Linked DNA regions of Homo sapiens. The protein of the gene in region 1 interacts with the protein of each later gene in a biochemical or structural test. Each region holds a gene or a part of one and is shown on either strand. Other genes may lie near its edges.

Region 1 (8,903 bases):
AGAGGTTGCAGTGAGCTGAGATCACACCACTGTACTACAGCCTGGGCGACAGAGCGAGACTCTGTCTCAGAAAAAAAAAAAAATTATCCCTCAAAACTTTGTTCTCTCTAAAGTCTTCTCCATCCTAATAAGCAGAAGCCTCATTTTTCTACTTGCTCAAAACCCTGGAGTCATCCTTAACTCCTCTCTTTCTCTCCACCCTATTTCCAACCCATTAGGAAATCCTTTCAAACTACTTTCAAAATATATTCAGAATTTGATATTCTCACTACTTCCACTGCTACCAACCTGGACCAAACCATCATCATCACTCACCTGGATTGTTGCAAACACCTCCTAAATGCACTCCGTTCCTAACCTTACTCCCTTTCAGTCTAATGTGATCCTTTAAAAATCTTAGATCATGTTTCTTCTCTGCTCAAAACCTTCCAATGGTTTCCCTTCTGTATTAGTTAAGGCAATGCTAGCTCTGAAAGAGATAAATCCTAATATATCAATGGCATAAAATAGCTAATAGAAGTTCTACTTCTCATTCACAAAGAGTCCAAAAATGGTGTTCCTGGTTCAAAAACTGAGTGGCAGTTTCACAGGAACCTGGGCTTCTTCCATCTTGTGGCTCTGCCATCTGCAATACACAGCTTCTAGCCACAGAAAGAGAATGAGCTTGGAGAATTACACATGGCAGGTCTGTATGGCCAGTACTGGAAGTAGTGTACAACATCTCCACCCTCCTTCCTTCAGTCAGAGCTCAGTCATATGACCATACTGGAAGGGAGGCTGGGAAATGTAGTCTAGCTGGGTTCACAGAAAGAAGAAGAAACAATTTAGCAAATAGTCAGTCTTCATATCCTCTCACTCATCATAGCGAAAGCTAAAGTCCTTGCAATAGCCTAAAGGCCCTACATGGTGTCCCTCTCTCCCTCCCTCATTCCTGTTGCTCCCTCTCTGACCTCATGTCCTCTACTCTCCTTGCTACTGTACTGCAGTCCCACTGGCTTCCAGTTGCTCCTCAAACACTTCAAACATACTCCCAACTCAGGGCCTTGCCTTGGTGTTCCCTTTTCCTGGAATGTTCACCACCTTCAGATGTTCACTCACGTGTCACCCTCTCATGAGCTTCCCTGGCCACCTTTTCTGAGATGGCAACGCCACTCCTGATAGTCCCAACACTCACTGTTCTCCTTTCCTGCCTTATTTTTCTCCTTATGTAAGCAGACAGAGAGGGTCTGTATTAGTCCATTCTTGTATTGCTATAAAGAAATACCTGAGACTGGGTAATTTACAAAGAAAAGAGATTTAATTGGCTCAGAGTTCTGCAGCTGTACAGGAAGCACAGTGGCTTCTGCTTCTTGGGAGGCCTCAGGGAAATTATGGCGGAAGGCAATGGGGAAGCAGATACGTCTTGCATGGCTGGAGCAGGAGGAAGGGGCGGGGGAGGTGCCACAGACTTTAAATGAACAGATCTCATTAGAAATCACTCACTATACAGTACCAAGCGGGGATGGTGCTAAACCATTCATGAGAACTCCGCCCCATGATCCATTCACCTCCCACCAGGCCCCTCCTCCAATACTAGGGTTTACAACACAGATCCAAACCATATCAGGGTCTCCAGGGATAAAAGGAATTCAATCAACTCGAGCAATCAGCCTGTTTTACAGCCTTCTGCCCTGCAGCCTGTTCTTCCCCAAACCCTGCATGGAATGTGGTCACCTTGTTGGTTTGAACCAGCTCCTTGCAGACCCTGGCAATTTATAGATGAACTGAGTCAACTTTTCCCTTGACCATGCCAAAGTCTCCACCCTAGGAGGAGCTATAGCTTCGTTGCCATAACATGCCACCTATGTTCTGGCATAATGACTCACTCGTTTGTGCCACTGGGACCCCTCCTCTACATGTGATTTTGCACTCTCTCCATCACCCTGTAAAACCCTCCTGTCACTTTCCCCTGGGGAGACACTGCTTTAGAGAACATTCCCAGTATCCTTCTTACATATGCCAAGTAATAAAACTGCTATTGATCACAAACTGCGTTTTGCATTGTTTGTTACTCACTAAGCGAACAAACCCTGGTTTTTCAGGTAACAGCACCTGTCACCACCTCTCATTCTATGTATGTTGCTTTTTTGTCTTGTTTATGGGCTGTCTCACCTACCTCTACACACCAGAGTATAAGCACCGTGACAGACTTAATTTTGTTCACTGTTGTATCCCCAGTTCCTAGAACAGTGTCTGCACACAGGAAACATTGAAAGTTCAGTAGCACCCATGAGCAGAGATGGGAAGCTTGGAGATGAATGTCAGCCTTTTATGGTGACACCATCATGCCGGCCCCAAGCAGTCCTTCAGTGCTGCTCTCACTCGATGGCCTCGGGTGCAGCTATTGGCGGCATTTCTAATATGTGTTGTCCCTCAGGTCCTTTTCTTCCTTCCTCCACCTACTTTCTAACTCTGGGGCTCCCATGAGGCCTAATCTGCTTTCGTCTCCTCAAAAAGTTTATCTGTTCTCATGGCTCCATCAGCCATCTGCTAGCCAACAACCCCTCCCAAATATCTCCTCCAGGCTCTTGGCTCTTTCTCTTTGGCTATTCCGCCATCACATAGACTTCCTATGTCTTGAACTCAATTGACTTCCCTCATTCCATGCACCTAGCTCATTCTCCTAGTCTCCCATGATTAAACCTTTTAACTTTTGAGTGCTCCTTCTTCATTTCTTTCATTCGAGTGGTCACTAAGCTCAGGACTTATTTCCACTTTTAAAATCTCTCTTGTGGCTGGGCACCGTGGCTCATGCCTGTAATCCCAGCACTTTGGGAGGCCGAGGCAGGCGGATCACTAGAGGTCAGGAGTTCGACATTGGCCTGACCAACATGGTGAAACCTTGTCTCTACTAAAAATACAAAAATTAGCCAGGCGTGGTGGCACATGCCTGTAATCCCAGTTACTTGGGAGGCTGAGGCAGGAGAATCACTTGAACCTAGGAGGCGGAGGTGCAGTGAGCCAAGGTCGCACCATTGCACTACAGCCTGGGCGACAAAAGCAAAACTCCATCTCAAAAAAAAAGAAAAACAAAACAAAACAAACAAACAAAAAAACTCTTGTATATAAAGGTTCATTTCCATTTCCCTTTCCCTTGCTAGGCCAGGCCCTTCTCCATTAGGGAACCTCAGGGTTGGAGGGCCCTATCTCTGGCACCCTCACTACCTGTTTAGCCTTTACTAGGACAATTCCAGGATGGATGGCGCACCATTAAGCTGAGTTCCTTGAGGACAGGGACGATGTCCTGTTTACTTTGGGTTCACCAGCACATAACACAGTGCCTGACCTTAAGGAGTTGTTATTTTTATTTTTTAAGAGAAAGGGTCTTGCTCTGTTGCCCAGGCTGGAGTGAAGTGGTACAGTCATAGTTCATTGCAGCCTCAACCTCCTGGGCTCAAGCAACTAGCTTGAACTACATGTGTGTGCCACCACACCCAGCTAATTTTTAGTTTTTGTTTTTTTGTAGAGATAGGGGGAGGAAGGGTCTCGTTATTTTGCCCAGGCTGGTCTCAAACTCCTGGCCTCAAGTGATCCTTAAGGAGGTATTTTAAAAACTGTTTTCGAAATAATGCCTCCTGAGGTAGCCTGTTTTATTGTTAATACCCATTAGATGGCTTCCCTGTAGGCACAAGCTTAGAAACTTTCCCAGGAAGACCCACAGTTCCCACTGTCTTCAGTTCAGGTTCCTCAAATTGACAAGATCTTCCATTACCTCTCCAAACTTACTATCCATGCTTTTCTTTCATTGTTTCCCCCCACCCCTTTTTTTAACCTTCCTCATTTGCTACCTGGCCTGAGAATTTACCTCCCACTCTGCCCTCCACTTGTCCTTATTCCTATTACTCTTCTTGCTGAATAGTCCATTTGGGACTTCCTTAGTCCAGCCTTAGTCATATCTTCCTCTGAAGCCTTCCCTGACTACCACCAAGGGTCACTGACACTCCTTTGAATGCCAGAAGGATTAGTTGTAAACCTTTCACGTTGACAGTAACTAGCTTGCTTTCATGAGCTTAACTGTTTCATGAGTTTACAACTTGTCTCAATTTGATTTTAAACTACAGAGGCTTTATGTGCTAAGAATGCCACAGGTTTACATTCCATTTGTGTTGAAGCTATAGTAGCCTTTATTTGATATTTGTTTTAATTTCATGACATGAAATTAAATTTTCAGGGACATGCAACGGGTTCGGCCCATTCCCTTCACTTAACATTACTGAGCTGGGCAGTAAGCTCAGAGTTGCAGATATAAAGATGAATAGACAGATACCTACCCAGGAGCTTACTCTAGAAGAGGACAGATGGATAAGCTACATTTTATAGCAGAATTTGGCAAAGTGTACTGAAGCTATAAACAGCTATGATGGTAAATAAGGTAAGAATTATGCTTAGTGAGGTCAGGGAAGGCTTCTAGAGCTAACATCTGAACTGGGACTTCTATTGGCAAGGCAGAAAATCAGGAAAACGCACTTATTCCTGGCAGAGGAAGCCTCTTGATCAAAAATCTTAAGAGATGAAAAAGGACCGGTTGTTAGGAAACAGATGATGGTGCCCAGAGCGCAAGATGAGGGGGAGTGTTGGGAGATGGAGCTAAAAGATACACTGGTGCCAAAGACTGAAGAGCCTCCTGTAGATAGCGCAGGGCGCAGCGCTGAAGGGAAAGAAAAAGTTGGGATTGTTCAATAAAGTTGGTGACTGATTCAGTCGGATTAATTCCGCCCTGGTGGTCTTGTGGGAATGAAGATAACTAGCAGGATAGTCTAAGAAGCCCTGTGGAAGCAGAGTCATGAGCTGTGAATGGGGACGTGGCGGCCACACGGCCGCGCCCACGCCACCCGCAGTACGGGGCTGGGGCTGGGGCTGGGGCTGGAGCCCGCCGTCCCAACAATCCCGGGGACGAGAGTTGGGCGGGAATCCGCTCCACGCAACTCGGCGCGGTCCCGGGGACGTGGCGCTTTCCAGCCAATCCCGGCTATGCGATTGTTAGACCAATGGCTACTCGGGGACGCTATGCGACAGCGGCGGGTTTGCTGATGATTGGTCGGGAGGCCGCCGGCGAGGCGGATGAGGGCGGGGTGCGGACCCGCTTCCGGTTGGGCGGTGCTTGCGCGCGTGAGCTGAGCCGGTGGGTGAGCGGCGGCCACGGCATCCTGTGCTGTGGGGGCTACGAGGAAAGGTAAGTACGGTGATGCCCAGCCCCTTCACCACTGCCTCATCTTTATTCGCTTTCTTTCTGTCCCCGGTCTTGTTCTTGGCGCGGCAGGGGACTGCCTCACTCGGTGCCGCTGTCTCTGCTGGCGCCCGGGTCCCAGGCCTGATGCTGCTGGAGATCCCGGGACCCTCTGTGTGCAGCCTGGGATGGAGGCCGCCGCCCGTCTTACCGCGCGCTCTGGGAAGGGGGCTGGTCCGGTGGAACTCTGTCCCGTTGGGTACTGTTCTGTGCCTGGTTTGCTGCGTCCTGGTCCTCCATCTCTAGGTCACGCCACTCACCGAGTCTCTGGCACCAGAGGGTCATTTTTTGCCTCCGGAAGGTCGGAGGGCATTTGGATAGTGTTATTGTAAGAGTTCCTTGCCGCCTCCACTCACCATCCTGCTTGTATCTGCCAGCTCCGCCCCAAGGCCACATCCCGACAGTAGGGTGCATCTGCCAAGGTCGTGTTCACTCACCTAAAGGGTGCAGAAACAAGGGGGGAGAGAACGAGTGACGACACTAGGTGATATCTATGATTTTAAAGAAAAGCTGAATGTTTAGAGCTTCCATATTTGGCTACGTACTTCAGTTAGCGACGGAAAATAGTTTTTAAAGCTTTATTGGGGAATTAATTTTTGTTACGTTTTTTGTTGCTTCTAGCCCCATATCCTACTGATTTTTAGCATGCTGCGGTCAGAAATAAACTTAATTCCCTATAGCTGCCGCGATTAAGCGTAGAGTGGCTTGCAGTTTCAAAAGCTGCTTTTGCATCAAGGCCCAAGCTCCGTGGGTCTCCTGCTAAAACTTTTGAGCCTGTGATCTGAATTCCTAAGTGTATAAAATTCTAGAATAGTGTCTTCGAGAATTGAGTTGCGTTCATTTTCTGGTGTGGACCATGAAGTCAACGTTAATGAATTGGGAATAAGGTGGCTTCTAGTTGTTTTTTGTTCTAGTAGCTTATTCAGCTTGGAGGCAGAGAACCTTGGAATCTCTGTTAAATTAGTCTGCCATAGAATGGAACTTGACACAAGACAAATGCAAGTTTGACCTCACTCAGTAGATTTAATTAACCAAATACCAAACGACAGTAATCACTGAAGAATTTATATAGTATAATCCAAATGAGGGACCAGATATAACCTCTAAGTTGTATTTGTCAAGAAAATGAGTTTGCCAAGACCTAATCTGAGGTTTTACTGTGATTGGGGGGTGGGGGGGTTCCAATAGGATTCTTTTGAGAATCACAAGTAGGAAAGCCATGAGCTCACAAAAATGTATTGAGTATGCCTGAGTGAATAGTACTCAATATAGCTTTGAAACCAACTCATTGTCACTCTCAATGTAATCATTGTTTGTTTTCATTCATCCAGTGATGTGTCAAGAAGTACTTATTGATAGCACTTAATATCCATTAGAGCAGTATTGGGATCTATATATTGGTGTTATTTTTTAAAATTTATTTATTTTAGAGTTGAGGGTCTCAGTATGTTGACCAGGTGGAGCCTTGAACTCCCATGCTCAAGCAGTCCTCCTGCCTCAGCCTCCCAAGTAGCTGAGACTAGAGGTATATAACACCACACCCTAGTACATTGGTGTTAACACAGATTTTCTGTAACGTAGGTATACCAGGGATATTGAAAGGACAGAGGTGTAGCCAAGGATAGCCACTGGAAATGCTAGCTAGGCCACAAGGCCCTAGATTCTCACTCTCTGAACTCTTAAGTATGGATGTTGCTGATGCAGTAATTTATGTATTAGAGTTAAGACAGCTGAAATAACACTTTTGCCTGTTCCTGGCTGATTGCCAGATCCAGTAAACGGAATTGGAAGTTGGAGAACACAGGCAGGCAGGAACCACATTGCTGCCAAGTACCGCCCAATTAATTCAGTAAGATGTATTAATCCAGTAAAATGTATTGGTATCAAAAAAGTGCAAGACAATGTATTAGGGACAATATAGGGGTAATAATTTGTATTAGAATGATATGTAGACATTCTTCCAGAAATGTCGATTCTAAAGGGGAGCTAAGGAGACAACTTAAGGTAACCTATGGTCATTGTTTTTGAGTGGTTCAGACGAGTTTTATAGAAGTTTAGATTGGATCATACCCTTTTTGTCCAAAAAGAGAAAAAGATAACAGATCACTTCCAGCTAGAGTGATCATAGTAGGTAGGTCTTCTAGGATCTTAAATTTATTTATAGACATCTGGCACTGAAGGAAGTTTGAGCTAAAATAACTACCAAATTCTCAACAGTGTCACGCATGTTACACATGCACAGCAAAATTACAACTAGAAACCAAGGCTCCTATCCCTACATTTCAAATAGCATTTCTCTCACAATTGATTATGTATTAAGGCTTGTCAACGAAAAGGAAACTTTTTTCTCTCAGAATTTCTAGAACTTTTTTCTTTAAAAAGTTTTTTATTCTGTAGCCAGAAAAATTTAAAGTTTGTGCTGGGTTGCTTTGGTTATAGAACTAATGAAGCTTGAGTAATAGTTTCAGACATTCTCAGGGTTTTTCTTCTGCAGCCAGATTTTACACTTCTATTATCTCAGCTGTCTTATAAATGTATTCCCTCCATCACACAATATAATTAGAATGTATTGATGAACAGATGTAACTTCATCACTAGAGAGACGTTAAATAAATTATGTGTTGGTATCATGACTTTTATCAAATCATGAAGGATGCCATCACTTTTATGTGATAGTCCATTGGTATAGTACTAAAGTTTGTAAGTAAAGAATGTCAGATAGATAACAAGATAACTTCATTTTCGAGATCTCATAACCTGGGCCTTAGTATAGTTAAATTGCTATCAGTCTGTTCCCTGTAATCTCCAATTGAAGTAGACAGTTAAACAATGAGATCCTGCTTTTGCTGCGTTATGGAGAAATAAATGCCTTTTCTGGTGAATATCCATCCAGCTCAGAGAACTGGAATTTTACTACCACACCCATTTCTCCCAATTGTTAACATTGAGCAATGGGTCTTTGGTCAACCATAATAACTGTTGGATCACTCAGTGTTAACGTTCTTGTGAAGTTGAATTTAAACATCTAAATTTCCCTGAAACAATTTAAGTATTCTGTGACCAATGGCACTTTACCAAAATTGAAAGTTTGGGCCATGTATTGCTCGCAATACTGGTCCAATGGATACACTATGGACACTAAGGACAAAAACTTCCTTGAAAGCTCTAAGTTCTTACCTGAAGGGTGGGGTAGGGAGAAGTGATAAGAATTTAGAGCTTTTAAGGACATTTTTGGATGGATCGAAGAAACCAATTCTTAAGACTCATTATTATTAAAATCACACTTAACCCAGTTAGGCTTTTCTCTTTATAAATTACTGGAACGATTCATGAAAACAACTTTATAGAAGACCATTATTGGTGACATACTAATACTACAAAAGGATGATAGCTACTGGATATATTTTCTGTTCTAATCTTTTGGTTTGTGTCTAACATGCTGTCCAATAAAAATATAATACAAGCCACATATGTAATTTTAAATTTTCAGGTGAAAATCTAAAACAGGTGAAAGTAATTTTAATAATGTTTAATCTAATACATATAAAATACCATTCTTTCAATATGAAATGTAACACTTATACCAATCGCAATTCACACTAGCCACATTTCAAGTGCTTAGTAGTCACATGTGGCT
Region 2 (7,231 bases), on another chromosome or scaffold:
TGGTTACCATCCTGAAGCTTCTGGATGCTATCTTTCTGATTCCACTGACTACATGCTCTACTTATTATCAGTGAGAAAAGCCTGTCTTATTTCCCATATATGTAGCTCAAACTCCCTCTGGGATCCTTGCTTCTCTGGGAATGCAACTTATATCTGTTGACGATGTGCCAGGCACTGTGTTCCATGCTTTTCATAACCATAAAAATAACTACTAGTAATAGCATCTGACAATTATTTTTCAGTGTGATAGTTAGGATGTGGCTTGCTCTGCTAAGAGTTGTATCTGAAATGTACATGGAAAGTCCATTTCAGAGAGTATTCTGTGTATACTCTCTGTGTACATTTCAGAGAGAGTAACTGGGACCAGGTTATAGAGGGCAATGTCATATTTAGAGGTTTAAATCATGTCCTGTAAGAAGTGTGAATCCATGGAAGAATTTTAGACAGCATATTCATGTGAGCAATATTCAGAGTATAATATTTTTTGATGACATCAAGAGAACATTATGAAAATCAAGCATTGTACAGTCCTACTGAGGTTTTTGAGACATAAAGTTATGTTTGTCTTCATACAAAATGATCCCAGTCTCATACTTTTTTGGTTTTCATTCTGACTTCTTCTAGTTTTATTCTTCCTGTCTTATTACTTGCTGTCAGGTTCTCAACTATTGCTTACTTATATCATTATAGTTGTCTACCTGATGCAACCTCAGACCCCTTTTTGATCGATTTGTAGCTGGAAAAACAAATAGGAGAATTGTGATTACAATTCCACACATATTTTGAATCGTCATTAAAATGATTGTTAGTAGCTTTTAAGTATTGCCACTGTTGTGCTCATTGAGTGCTCTGGCTTTGTGATATATCTTTCTAGTTACTTACAGGTTTTCCTCCCCGTACTTGGCAATTGGAGTTTTCAGGATAATGAAACACCAATTACCAATGAAACACCAATTAGTAGATAGATAAGTAGTAGACATAAGATAAAGATATGGGACTATGACAAGCACTAAACAAATGCAGGTAGCATAATACAATATATATTTTTTTAATTAGGCAGACATACAGATAGGAAATTCAAAGAAGAAAGAGCTGCAGATGTAAGATCTAGTATCCAGTTGCTTTGACCAGATCTCTTAGACAGTCATTTCATTTTCAAGTGCTCTCGTTGAGTCAAGACCTCAGACCCACACCAAGGGTTTGATGATGACATATCCTCTGATTTCATAGTTCAGAGCCTGCCAGTCCAGGATATTGGCAGGGAGAGGGGTACCCTGATAGGCAGACAGGATATTTTCTGGGGGCAGCACAGAGTCCCACATGTACAAATCCCCAATCTCTCCCACAAAGGACTGGCTCCTATCAAACTTGCCCCCATAGGAATCCTGTTCCTGCCCCAGGACAATCTTGGGCTGAGCTTCTACAAAGTAACCCTGTCGCAGACCCTTTTTCACCAAAGGTGTCCCATTGATCCAAAATTCAGCAATACCTGATGAGGACTCCCAGCTCACACAGATGTGCACTGGAGCCGGGAACTTTTCGATAACTTTGGATGTAACTTTGTGTCTTCCAATGTATAGACTATACTCTCCAACTCTTTCTTTATAAACTAGTAGCTCATTATCCCTGCCTTGGGTATTGTAGGAGAAGAGGCTGTAGGCACGAGAGAGATCACTATAGGCTCGAAAACACAAGGTAAAGTTCTGTAGAGGCTTCTCCAGCGGTGTGATCAAGTTTACATGATCAGTAACAGATTCTCTAGGAAATACAAACACCTTCCCACTGAGGTCTGCGGGATAAAGAAAGAAAGATAATGACCTTCAGTATAAATGCAGGGAAAAGATATCTCAGCTTCAACCTATTTTCTCACTTTATGATTCTTGACCATTCCTTCACCTCCTTACCTGTGTGAGCAAAGGCTTCCAGGAGGCTGGTGAGGACAGAGATCCAAAGCAGCGGCTTGTTCATATTCCTGGCCTAGGGCTGTTATAGCAGAAGCAGTGACCAGGATGAGGGTAGCAGACAACACAGTGGCTGTCCCCCTAGCGTCTGATATTCATGCCCTTAGACTTCAGGTTATTCAGGGTTTATATGCACCTTGGGTGAGGATGGGGGAGGAAGAGCACCAATAATATGTGAGTGATTTTCCAGGTCTGCCTCCTGGCGCTTACGGTGAAGGAGTGGTGAGCCCTGAGCTGGAAAATCAATGGGAGTTATTTATTAGAGACAAGTGATGGCTAGAGCTCCAACTCCTGTGACCCAGATTTTATTGCTGGGAAGAGAGTCATTGCAGGGCAGCAGGGTTATGGATGGGATGAGGCGCTGGGCTGGCCATGTCAGCAGAGCCTCTCTCTGCTCTCTGGGCCCCCTCTCTGATGGCTCTGTGCTCTGCCAGAAGCTCCTGAGCCACACAGAGTGTATCGCTGAGCTCAGCCCTCTTGTGGGCTATGGGAACAAGGCCTTTTCTTTCTTTTATAGTTCTCAAGTTGTCTTGTATTTGTAGGATATTCTAGGATTCTGCTTTCTGCTGAAGACCCTAAAAAGTGCCTTCAACTTTGACTAATTCAACATCAAGTAATACATCCAGGCAAAGCTAAGGGGAAAGAGGGACTTGGAGAATAAACTTTCTGTCCCCATGAAGCTTAGTATTTTTCTGCTACTTCTACTCAGTGCTTTTTTTTCGTTTGCATATCATGGTGCTTCCTTATCCTAGATCTTTCCATTTCTCATTACGACTTGTTTTCTGGTTACTTCATGCTACCTGCAGAGATGTCAGCATCTCCCCAAGTTTTTCTCTCCTCTTCTTTGAGTCCTTGGTCATTGAGTGTATATCTAATCCATCTTTGGTGATGACCCCACTAATACATTTATTCACTAGCTCTCAGTTACTACACTAGGTGCTGGGGATTCAGTGGTCACTGGCTCTCTCACAGCCCCAGAGATCTCCACCTTCATTCTTTCTATGTCTCCTTCATTCTCTCTCTGTACAGTTTATTAACCACCACTCAAACCTTCTCTGCCTCTGAGATATCAAACTGAAGTTCTTCTTTCTAGCCACATTATTTCTTTCTCTCTCATCCCTGAATTATATGGTGTCTTGTTTCTCATCCTACTGTTTAGCCTCTTGTTCACTCTCTCTTCTGTTAGCTCACCACAGACCTAATCAGCCTTTTCAATGACACAATCACTGCCACCAAGAATACACTTTCTCTATCATTGTTCAAAGTATCCTTCCTATTCTCATCCCTGGGGAGTTTCCATTCTCTACTTTTTTTCTCTAAATGGAATCCCAGGTTGTGAAGCCTTATCTGGCTTGTTGCACAGTATAGGTTAGTGATAAAGTTGGGATTATGCATCTATTGACTCCTGAATTAAATACAGACCATTTGCTTGGAAGCCAATGCCATTTGCAATCTGGCTCTAACCTGGCTATTATCTCAGAATCTAATCCTATTCTCCAGTCAAACACCTCTAATTGTTGTTCTTTATACCTTCCTGGCTTTCTTGATTTCATTACTTCTATTCAGTGCCTTCATACTGTCTTGAATTTCTCTCTTATTTTCTTTTCCTGTTTCTAGGAATTCCAGCCATTCTTCCACATTAATCTCAAGCTTATTTAGGTGATGGTTATAGTAAAAGCCCAGACTTCACTATTATGTTATTGCTGTCTATGTAATAAAACTAAACTTGTATGCCTTGAATTTATACAAAAATATAAAAAATAAAAAACAATCTGCTTCATGAAGACTTTTCTAATATCCCAACTATACATTATTTCCCCTCTTTCGTACTTCCCATAAGGTTAAGATCAAAGACTTTGGGATAGAATTCCAATGTTGCCATTTACTAGTGGCTGACTATTCTGCAAGTCACTAAACCCCTCTGAACCTTAGTTTCCTTCTCTGTGAAACAAAGATAAAACTATCTACCTCACAGTGTTTCTCTAAGGATAAATGAGATACTATGATATACATAAAGTACATGGAACAGTATCTGGATGGTTATTATTACCATCATTTTAGAGCCTTTATGGCTGTTACCACTATCTGTCTCATATTATAGATATTATTGTATTTATCTTGAATCCCTTCTAGACTGAATCTGGGTATTAGGACTTATTTATATTTAGATCATTGGTTTCATCTAACAATTTTTCTTACACATGAAAAGAAACTGTTACATATTGTGGAATCAAAGGACTCAACTTTGTGTGAGGATTTTTTTTTTTTTACAAGAAACAGTTTATTAGCAACAAAAAGTAGAATACAATTGAATAATATGATAAGGTAATACTGGAAGTAGGAGCAGGAAGGTAACATTTCTTGAGAACCCAGGGACTATGCAATTCCCTAACATTTCCAGATGTTAATTAATAAGTGCCATAAAACTCAGAGAACACAGGGCTTACCAGATGCTTCTAGTTTTCTTCATAAATAAATAAATAATCATTATCTTAACAAAAAATGGTTTGCAAATTAATATCAAAGAGAGTCTTCTCTAATGGGAGATAAGCCTAGGGAACAGGTCTTGGGGATAAGTGACACAGCCTTAGACTCATGGTGGGAGAGCTTGGAGATAACGGCTTTAGATAGCTGTTGGGGCCAAGTGCAAGGGTTTGCAGTTGAATATGAAAATGTTGTGTTATACACTGTGAAAAGGAAACCCTGGTTGGAAGGTAGGGTCTACAGTATAATTGGAAAAGGGAGAAAAAGTGGAGTCTGATTCTGTTGTCTAGTTTCCTTCCCCAGAATATGCTTCTCAGGCCTTGGAAGAGAACAGCCTGCACTTCAAGAGTTGTCAAAGAGGAAACTGAGAATTATTTTTATTGTAGAAAGGAAAAGTTCTGATGTCAGGATGTAGGAAAATGAATCCTGGGTCTTCAGAACTGGGTGCAATCCTCACAGTGAGCCAATCCTCACTGTTGCTGGATCCTCCTGGGTGCCATCCTGCCAGTGAAAGTTCAGGTCAAGGTGGCGGCTCCTGTCTGGATGGCTATGGAAGAGTTGAGGCTGGGGGAAGAAAAGATACAGTATGCTGAAGAGAAACAGGTCCACCTGTGTGCCACAAACAGAGTTGTCTTGGCTACATTAATTGGCATGCAACAAAGTTTACCCTCAGAGAGCATAGTGGAAGAAGGCATCAGCAGTAGCAGAAAGAGGATCTGACTCGGAGCTTCAAAAAAGCAGAAGTATGAGATATAACTGGAGATCACCTGAGGGATTAAAGAATAACCTAAAGATGGTTTCTGAGACCTCAGGTGTTTGTAGAAGACATTAAGTCACAGTAACCAATGGGAAAGACTGGATAGGAAGAGACTGAGTAGAACAAGATTTGTGTTCAGTAAAGAATTATTTGCTGTGTGTTCTGTCAGTTGTAAGGGAATTTGAGAGCATTTAGATGGAAAGAGGCAATGGAGGCATGCATCAAGAGTAACTGATTATCACTCTGATATGTGGTTGGATAAAACCAAAGATACACAACTTAGACTGATGGCAGGGTCTTATTGTAAGTGCAAAAAAGGACAAAGATGAGAATTAAAAATATATATATAGAATATGGAACCATATTTCTTACTGCAAATCATGTGGAAAAAAAATATGGTGCTGCCAGTACAGATAGGACAATTGAGAGGATGTTCACTTGGAGGAGGTGGAGGGTAGGTGGTAAACTTGGTTCCTCAAATGCTAAATTTGAAATGATAGTATGACTTATGTGTAAGAAAGGTCTTGGAGAATTTGTAATATGTGACGGCCACTTGGAATTAGAAATACAGGTTTCAGAGAAATCAACATATAAATGATAATGAAACAAAAATGAATTTTGTCTTTCAGTGGAAAAGAGAAGAGAGGAAAGGTCAGGGAGCCAACCACTGACTTGAGGAAACATTCACATTCATGGTGTTAGAGGCAAGATAAGAATGGCAGGTGGGGAGGGAGGTGGGAGACAAAAAATTATGTTTGGCAGAGAGGATAGCGTGTGGTGTCATGGAAACCAAGTCAGTGTAAGTGTCCAGGAAGCAGTATCCAGTGGTATTAAATGCATCAGAGAGATCTAAGTTGAATGCATGCTGGATTTAGCAATAAAAACTTCAGTCGTAACCTTTGAAAGAGTAATTTTCATAAAGTGAGCATGTCAGAAGCCAAGTTTCAGGGAATGATGGAGGGAGAAAGAGGAAGGGAGTTTGTTTCCTAAGGTTCAGTAATTCTGACAAAGAACAAAAGGAGAGAAACAAGATTCTCCACAGGAGACTTGGGATTCAATGCATATTTCCCACACAGTTTATAGATTGTCTCTTCTTGACAGAGTGGCTATCATGTCTTTGTTGCCTACCTAATAACATTTCAGCCAACAACAGAGAAAAATCAGTGTCCACCTGAGATTATGACTGACCTTTCTACCAAAGTAGCTCTTTCAGACTCTAAATGCCAGGCTCAGGCTGCTGTGAACTCCTAACTCCCCTTCACAATTCTGGCAGCTTCACAAATTTGTCAGTCACTTTCCAGGTCATGCTGATACACAAGAGTCTTTTCTTGATCTCATTTCTCTGTTCCTAATTTCAGGGTTCATTTATAAAAGAAAATCTCTGCTAAGTTTTTTTTTATCTTCTACTTTTAGGTTTAGTGAGACACCTCGACCATATTACCTCACTGAAATCTCACTTTTAAGTTCAGAATTCACCTGAAACTGCTCTCTGGAATGTCACCATATCTGTATCTTAGTCTTTATCTTTCTTGACATCCCTTCACTCTTACACTTCTTTTTGAACAACCCATCTTTATAGTTTTATAAAATATAGATTTCATTGCTGAGATTAATGTTTATTCATTTTTTAAATATAAATTTTTAAATAAAATTTACCATTCAGACTCCCACTGGCCACAACCATCTTCATGCTGTTCACAATCCCTTCATAATACCTGAGTCTTCTGGGAGGAGATGTGCAAAGAAGAAAAATGTAACAGCAGGGACTCAGTGTAACTCTGTATCTTGAGTATGTTTAAAAGTTCCCTTCTCTGTGTCTAGGAATATATTTTCCAGTCCACAGTGATAGAGAATACATGCACTGAAGATGCAGAAGCAGATTCCTTGCTCGTGCAGCTACAAGAGGTCTTGGCTAGAGCTGTCTTGCGCTACTCTTGTCATCTTGTCAACTATGCCATGTTTCTGCTCATGACAGAAACATGGCAGCACAAGAGTTTTCTTATGCTGATCTATTTTATTGTTATCCCTA

What was found.
Region 2: the proteins of CALU (region 1) and APCS form a complex in vitro, tested with the Homo sapiens proteins (one study listed by BioGRID).

Annotation. Positions count from the first base shown.
Region 1 is NC_000007.14:128,734,221-128,743,123, forward strand, and holds the start of CALU (calumenin isoform a precursor), read left to right. Parts: upstream 1-5,138; 5' UTR 5,139-5,212; intron 5,213-8,903. UniProt on the Homo sapiens protein: Involved in regulation of vitamin K-dependent carboxylation of multiple N-terminal glutamate residues. Seems to inhibit gamma-carboxylase GGCX. Binds 7 calcium ions with a low affinity.
Region 2 is NC_000001.11:159,582,659-159,589,889, reverse strand, and holds APCS (serum amyloid P-component precursor), read right to left. Parts: upstream 2,065-7,231; 5' UTR 1,969-2,064; coding exon 1,905-1,968; intron 1,790-1,904; coding exon 1,182-1,789; 3' UTR 1,025-1,181; downstream 1-1,024. UniProt on the Homo sapiens protein: Can interact with DNA and histones and may scavenge nuclear material released from damaged circulating cells. May also function as a calcium-dependent lectin.